2 linked regions of the Homo sapiens genome follow. The protein of the gene in region 1 interacts with the protein of each later gene in a pairwise test. Each region holds a gene or a part of one and is shown in the gene's direction. Other genes may lie near its edges.

The links. The genes of interacting proteins can lie anywhere in the genome.
Region 2: the proteins of OR10AG1 (region 1) and EBAG9 interact in binary tests that used the Homo sapiens proteins (3 or more experiments, as listed by UniProt).

The regions. Positions count from the first base shown.
Region 1 is NC_000011.10:55,967,994-55,971,748, reverse strand, and holds the start of OR10AG1 (olfactory receptor 10AG1), read left to right. Parts: upstream 1-1,803; 5' UTR 1,804-1,841; coding exon 1,842-1,857; intron 1,858-3,241; coding exon 3,242-3,755. UniProt on the Homo sapiens protein: Odorant receptor.
Region 2 is NC_000008.11:109,543,034-109,546,788, forward strand, and holds part of EBAG9 (receptor-binding cancer antigen expressed on SiSo cells), read left to right. Parts: intron 1-3,755. UniProt on the Homo sapiens protein: May participate in suppression of cell proliferation and induces apoptotic cell death through activation of interleukin-1-beta converting enzyme (ICE)-like proteases.

The DNA.
Region 1 (3,755 bases):
AGAATGGCAGTTCTGTTTTTACCTCTTTCAGGAATCGTCACACTGCTTTCCACAATGGTTGAACTAATTTACACTCCCATCAAGACACTGTAAGTGTTGCCTCTTCACTGCAACCTCACCAGCATCTGTTATTTTTTGACTTTTTAATAATAGTGATTTTGACTGGTGTGAGATGGTATCTATCTCATTGTGGTTTTGATTTGCATTTCTCTAATGATCACTGGTTAGTGATGGAAAGTTTGATTTGCATTTCTCTAATGATCACTAGTTAGTGACCATTAGACCCGCTCAGGGAGGGACGGGCCCACAAACGCTCCGAGGACAACGGCTCTGCAGCAGGGCCAAAGGTGCACTCACTCCGGGAGCAGTGGCACACAGGATGTATGGGCACACTCACAGTGGCAGGGAAGGGAAGGCAATGTCCTCTGGCACACACACTCACTGGCAAAGGGATGCTGGTATTAGTGTTTTTATAATTAGCATAAATAATAGGAGAGAGACATAAATAGGGGGTGGCTATGGGTGAGTGAGTGCAGGCAAAGTGGCCCGAGAGGCTGCAGTGCAGGGAGGGTGCTGGTGGGCTGGCCTGTGTCTGCACAGGCTACTCTGCTGGATCAGTCTGCTGGTCAGCCGGGGGTCCACCAGCACAGGAGCTATGATGTGGCCCCCAGGAGGTACCTGGCTGGGGGCCAAGCTGGGACCCAGGAGAGGCCAGCAAACTGAGTGGTGCTGAAGTTAGAATAGCCTCATGTAGTGGGTGAGACTGCCGTGCAGAATTCAGGTCCCATAGTTCCCATAGGGCTAAAGCTTCCTACGGGAGCAGGTCAAGCCTGGGGGGATGGGCATCCCTGGCCATGCTCCACTACAGACACTTTCACACTAAACCCTCTGGATTCCACACAGGCTGGAGTTCTGCCCCTACCACTTGTCTAAGCATCTCTCCCTGCCAGTTCAAGTGTTACTTGTGGTCCAGGGGTTTTCTCCTGCTGGGATTCGGAGGCTCATGGAAAGAGAGGGTTGCTCCTTGCCCATTCAACTCATGCTTTTGCAGGAGTCACTGGGGGCCAGGAATGCTTCCTGTGTGTGGTACCCCCATGCAGAATTCCTTTCCTTCTGAAGATTTGCTAGGAGTGCACCAATCTTCCTGATGTCCTGGTCCCTCGTGGGCGATGTTCCTCTTGACTGCGTCTAGTGGGACGTCTTGGAGTGGTATATTACATTTTCAATCAGCTGGATACATTTCCCTGGTGCCTTATAGACAACACAGAATGAAATAAATGTATAGATAGATTTTCTCAGCAGAATTAACATGTTTTAATATCCACAAAAAAAGTTAACCTAGGAACAGAGGGTTCCACATCTGAAAAAGAATCTCACCGTTCAATATGTCGAAGACATCAAGCATATCATGTTCGTGTGATTAAACACATGATATATTTTTTAAAGGTCTAGTTAATTTGGATCTGGATAAATTATTGGAATAGAAGTAAGGCAGACAAATCCACACTAAGTATTAGGGGCCTCAAATACACAGTTGGAAAATTTTTAACTTTTTCCTGAAAGTAATACTAGACAACTAAATGGTATTTAATTAACTCCCCTCATGAGGAGATGAAGAGGAGGATAAGTTTACTTAAAGTAGTTTTGAAAAATGAATCAGAATGATTGACAAACAGAAGCAGCCTTCTAGAAATTAAACTGATACTCAAGAGAAGACACATCCCAGGTTGAGTCTGACTATTCCTATATAAGAGCTGTTGCTGTTTGAAACAAGCAAGCGTATTGCAAAATTACAGTTCCCGAGAAAAGGAAGAGCTTAAAAAGTCTGTACAGACAGCTTCATGCAAATCCCTAAAGGTAAGCCATAATTGGGTTGACAGACTATTTTATTTAAGAATAGTTACAAGTTTGTGGATAGAAATGCAACTAATAAAACAGAAAAGCATGAAATTTTGAGACCTTTATCTGAAAATTAATTATTTAACATTTAAATCATGTATCTCTTCACTACAAAGTTAAATAAAATTAGATGTCCAATAATGGTAAAATTGCATTAGTGATGAAAAGTCATTTAAGGCAATTTTGAAAACTAGTACTAATAGAAATGTATAAATATGAGATAGTATTTGTCTGATCACTTTCATTTATCAACGTATTAAGTCAAATGCATTGGCTGACCGGGCTAAAATAGGTATAGGTGCAGCAGATTTGAAGACACAGAAAAAAAGAATTTGTTTAGAAAGTTGGAGAACAAACGTTAAGCAAGTGTAATGGGAATTGACAAGCAGTGATTTCCTCATATTGGATGACATTGACATGAAGTGAAGCAAGACAGTGTGTTTTTGTTTTGTTTTGTTTAATTTTTTGGTCCCATTTATATGCTCTGGCCACTTAGATGGCCAGAGTAAATGTTAGCTGGGTTTAATCAAAGAATTTTACTTTAATAAGGCAACAGGATGAAGGGAAAATAGAGAGAAGGAATTGTATTTGGTTGAAAGGAACTGTATTTGGTTATATGACAATGGAGAAATTCACTTAGATAAAAAAAAGAAATGTAAAAAAAATTGTGATGAATTTCTACATCTTGATTAAGTTATAATTTAATTACTATTTAGCATTCACTGTATTCAGGGCAATAACAGGGGAAGTCAATAAACTGCCTACTGGTATTAGTGTTTTTATATTTAGCATAAATAATAGGAGAGAGACATGAAGTAGAGCAACAATAATGCATGTATTTAGTCTCTCAGTAACCAAGAAATTGTTTAAGATAATTGATTCTCACTGGTGCATAAAAGGAAAAGTTTAAAATTCATTTTGAGTATGAATTAATCGTAATATTCAAGGGCAACATTTTGAATTAAAAAAACTGGAATATGACTACCAATACAAAGAAAAATGATATTCTCAGATGAAATAGTAAAAGCCTACACTATAACTCTACTCTTAAGTGTGAAATAATAAGATGTTATTCCTCCATAATATTTTCTAAACAACAATGCATGCTTCTCAATGCCTCTGGTTGCATTATATCCCAGTATAATAAAATATATTGAGGTTTCATTTCTTAAATTGATTTTAATGCTAAATCAGTTTATTATCTAGAAACAGAGCAAGTACTGGTGAAAATGACTTAAGAGCTTAAGTAAGTATATTCCTGTATCTCATTTAGTTAACCCAAGAGGAAAATATTGTTCAAAATATGGATGAATTAACTGTCTTGAATTTGCTATATCTGCAGATGGAGAGCAAACTAAAAGAGAAAAATCAAATGTGACTACAATAATGGAATTTGTTCTTTTGGGGTTTTCTGATATTCCCAATCTCCACTGGATGCTTTTTAGTATATTTTTACTTATGTATTTGATGATCCTGATGTGCAATGGCATCATAATACTACTAATAAAAATTCACCCCGCTCTCCAGACTCCCATGTATTTTTTTCTTAGCAATTTTTCCCTTTTGGAAATCTGTTATGTAACAATCATTATCCCAAGAATGCTCATGGACATTTGGACTCAGAAAGGAAATATTTCTTTGTTTGCTTGTGCTACACAAATGTGTTTTTTTCTTATGCTTGGAGGCACGGAGTGTCTCCTTCTGACAGTGATGGCCTATGACCGCTACGTGGCTATTTGTAAGCCTTTGCAGTATCCTCTAGTGATGAACCACAAAGTCTGCATTCAGCTGATAATAGCTTCCTGGACCATCACAATTCCTGTAGTAATTGGGGAAACATGCCAAATTTTCCTTTT
Region 2 (3,755 bases), on another chromosome or scaffold:
GTCAGCATTGTTGCATGATTTGAACTTGAGTAAACCACTGGTTGGGATGTTTTTGACAGAAGTATTTAAATAACTCGAGTACAATTTTTAATATTCTGGTTCTTTTTTTTTTTTTTTTTTTTTTTTTTTTTTTAACAGTCACTGTTCTTTTCATCCTGTCAATTAGTAGGCCACTTCCAGGTTAGGCATTCAGTAAATCTTTCAGCTTATATGGAGAGACAGCCTCCATATGTACAAAACTACTTGAGTATTGCTAAGGTAACATTTTAGAGCCCTGTCTTTGTACCTTAATAGCCTACAAGCCCCTTCTGACCCTAGAAATAGAAAAGACTAGTGTGCGTTTTGCCTTTCCTTAGAAGAAATTGGCAATGATGCCTTTACAGAGCAATCAAGATCAGATACTATGAGAGTTAAGTATGTTTTTCTGGCTTTCTGATTTTGTTTTGTTCTTATTTTTTATGTGTTTGTTTGGAACTTTCGTATTGAGGTATAGCATACAAACAGTACATACAGTCAAGTATGTGGTGTTACTACTCAGATTGAGATATTAGATCTTAGCTCTCTAATGCTTCAGTATACCCTATCAGAGATGACCATTTTTTTTTACTATATAATTTTTAACCTATTCAATGTAATATTTTATTAGGTAAAAAGCTGCTTTTTTCAAGACTTTAGGAGTCTTGAATCCCCATGAAATGCATTTTTAAAAAGCATGGGCTGGGCATGGTAGCTCACACCTGTAATCCCAGCACTTTGGGAGGCTGAGGCAGGCAGATCACTTGAGGCCAGGAGTTCGAGACCAGCCTAGCCAACATGGCGAAACCCCGTCTCTAGTAAAAATACAAAAATTAGCGGGTGTGGTGGCATGTGCCAGTAGTCTCAGATTTGGGGGTGGCTGAGGCACGAGAATAACTTGAACCCAGGAGACAGAGGTTGCAGTGAGCCAAGATTGTACTGCTACACTCCAGCCTGGGTGACACAGCAAGACTCTATCTCAATTAAAAAAAAAAAAAAAAAAAAGTATGTTATAGTACAGGGATGGTGTATTTATCCAGGATGATTTTACTCCTTATGTTTCTAAATGTTATTGCTTATCTTATGCTCATGTAAGGTAATTAAAAAACTAATTAACATTTCAATTTTAAAAAGGTATATAGCTGTCCCTTTAATGTGGTCACATGATAATTATTACTTAAGTTAGGTTTTATCCGCTTTTAAGTAAGTATGTGTAGAACTGAAGTCCAAATATACTGCTTGTGCTTTTTTATTCTGGGAAAAAAAACTATCAAATTACTGTATGTTTTTTCTTTTTGTTTTAAGAAGTCAGCACTCTAAATAATTGTATTAATCAAGTGTTGTGATTGTTTCTAAAGGTGTTACTAATGGATTGAGAGGCCAGTCTGTTTTAGTTGTGATTTTGTTATTACCTGGTTGTTTCACCTTGAGCAGAACCGTTAACTTCAGTGTATCTTAGTTTCCTCATTTAGAAAATTTAAGAAGTTGGATGACGTATTCTCCAGCTGTTCCAATGACAGGAATCATGATTCTGAATACATAGTAATTCTCCTCCTTTGACAAAGAGAAGGCAAGGAAAAGCTAAGACATGAGATTCCATTATCAGTAATGTTATTCCTGTAAGTGTGTGCACATATGCACACACATATGTATGTTTGCCTGTGTATTTCTTGTGACTTGATTTAACATGTGGTCTGTTCTACCTCTCAACAGTGGAAAAATGACTATCTCTAATGGATTAACAGATTTTTTTCCCTCTTTCGTGTGTATTTTGAGGCTCTTAGTCGGGACATTGTCATAGTTACTTAAGTTTTCAACTTTAACTTGTGCCAAAACTCATCTTAAGAAATTTTTAAAATTAAATAGTGATTATTAGGGTAAATATATGCAGTACATATATAGTATACAATATATGCAATACATATATAGTATAGGTGACTAAGATGTATAAGAAAAATTTGGAAATTAAGAACCATGTTTAAAAAGGATACAGACCGGGCGTGGTGGCCCACACCTGTAATTTCAGCACTTTGGGAGGCTGAGGGGGTGGATCACTTGAGGTCAAGAGCTCGAGATTAGCCTGGCCAACATGCTGAAACCCTGTCTGTACTAAAAATACAAAAATTAACCTGGTGTGGTGGCAGGCACCTGTGGTCCCAGCTACTCAGGAGGCTGAGACAGGAGAATTGCTTGAACCCGGGAAGCGGAAGTTGCGGTGAGCTGAGATTGCACCATGGCACTCCAGCCTGGGCAACAGAGCGAGACTGTGTCTCAAAAAAAAAAAAAAAAAAAAAGGCTACCAAAATAATGCCAGTTTTACCTTTTTTTTTTTTGAAATGGAGTCTCACTGTGTTGCCCAGGCTGGAGTGCAGTCATGTGATCTCAGCTCACCGCAACCTCCGCCTCCCAGGGTTCAAGTGATTGTCGTGCCTCAGCCTCCTGAGTAGCTGGAACTACAGGCATGTGCCACCGCACCTGGCTAATTTTTGTATTATTAGTAGACGCGGGATTTCACCATATTGGCCAGGCTGGTCTCGAACTCCTGACCTCGTGATCTGCCCGCCTCAGCCTCCCAAAGCGCTGGGACTACAGACGTGAGCCACCGCGCCCAGCATAGTTTTATCATTTTTAGAATCTTTATTCCTATCATTGCTATGGCTGTAGTTTTCAATTCCTATATCATCTCTTTCATAAAGACATATATCTTGTTATTTAATCATAGGGAGGCAGTATGAGTGTGATATTTAAGGACTGAGACACTACAACCAGACTCTTTGGGTTCAAATTCCAGTTCTATAACTTATCAGTTCTGTATCTTTGGCAGCTTACTTAACCCCGCTGTGCCTTAGTTTTCTTATCTGAAGTAGAGACAAAATAGTACTTGCTTCAAGTCCTTCCCAGGGTTGTTGTGAGCATTGAATGAGTATTACATGTTAATCACTAAGAAGAATGCTTTTTATGAAATATAAAGTAAGCTATTACAGTATATTGAAATGCTATTGTGAAATCAGATTTCTGTTTTTAGAGAAGTTCTGAAATAATGTTTCTTTTCACTAATTGTCCTAGTTTCCTAATGGAAGTTGGCTTTCTAGAAAGTAACAAATAATTGATACAAGATTATGATGGTGTTAATGAGTTTTTAAAACAGTATTCTAACCAGAATATGAACACTGTTCTAATTTAAGTGACATAATATTGTTCAAAAATGTCTTCGTGTAGATTGTTTTAACAGCTCTTTTGAGCTCTAATTGAAATGCAATAAACTGTATATAATTAAAGTATACAATTTGATTAGTTTTGATGAATATATATACACTCACCTATGAAACCACCACAACTGAAGCCGTAAGTATATCCATTACCTCCAAAAGTTTCGTCATGTCTGTCAGTGATCCTTCCTTCCCACTTCTCCCTGCCTCATTACAAGGCACTGCTGATATTTTCTGTCACTCTATATTTGTTTATAATTTCTCGAGCAACCTTGTCCAGTCTGCTGCCTGTGGGCCTCATATAGCCCAGGATGGCTTTGACTGCAGCCCAATGCAAATTAGTAAACTTTCTTAAAACATTATGAGATTTTTTTGCAATTTTTTTAGGCTTATCAGCTCTGGTTAGTGTTAGTGTATTTTATGTGTGGCCCAAGATAATTCTTTTTCCAGTGTGGCCCAGGGAAGCCAAAAGATTGGACACCCCTGTTCTAGAGCTTAAAAAATACTATATATGGAATCATACAGTGTATA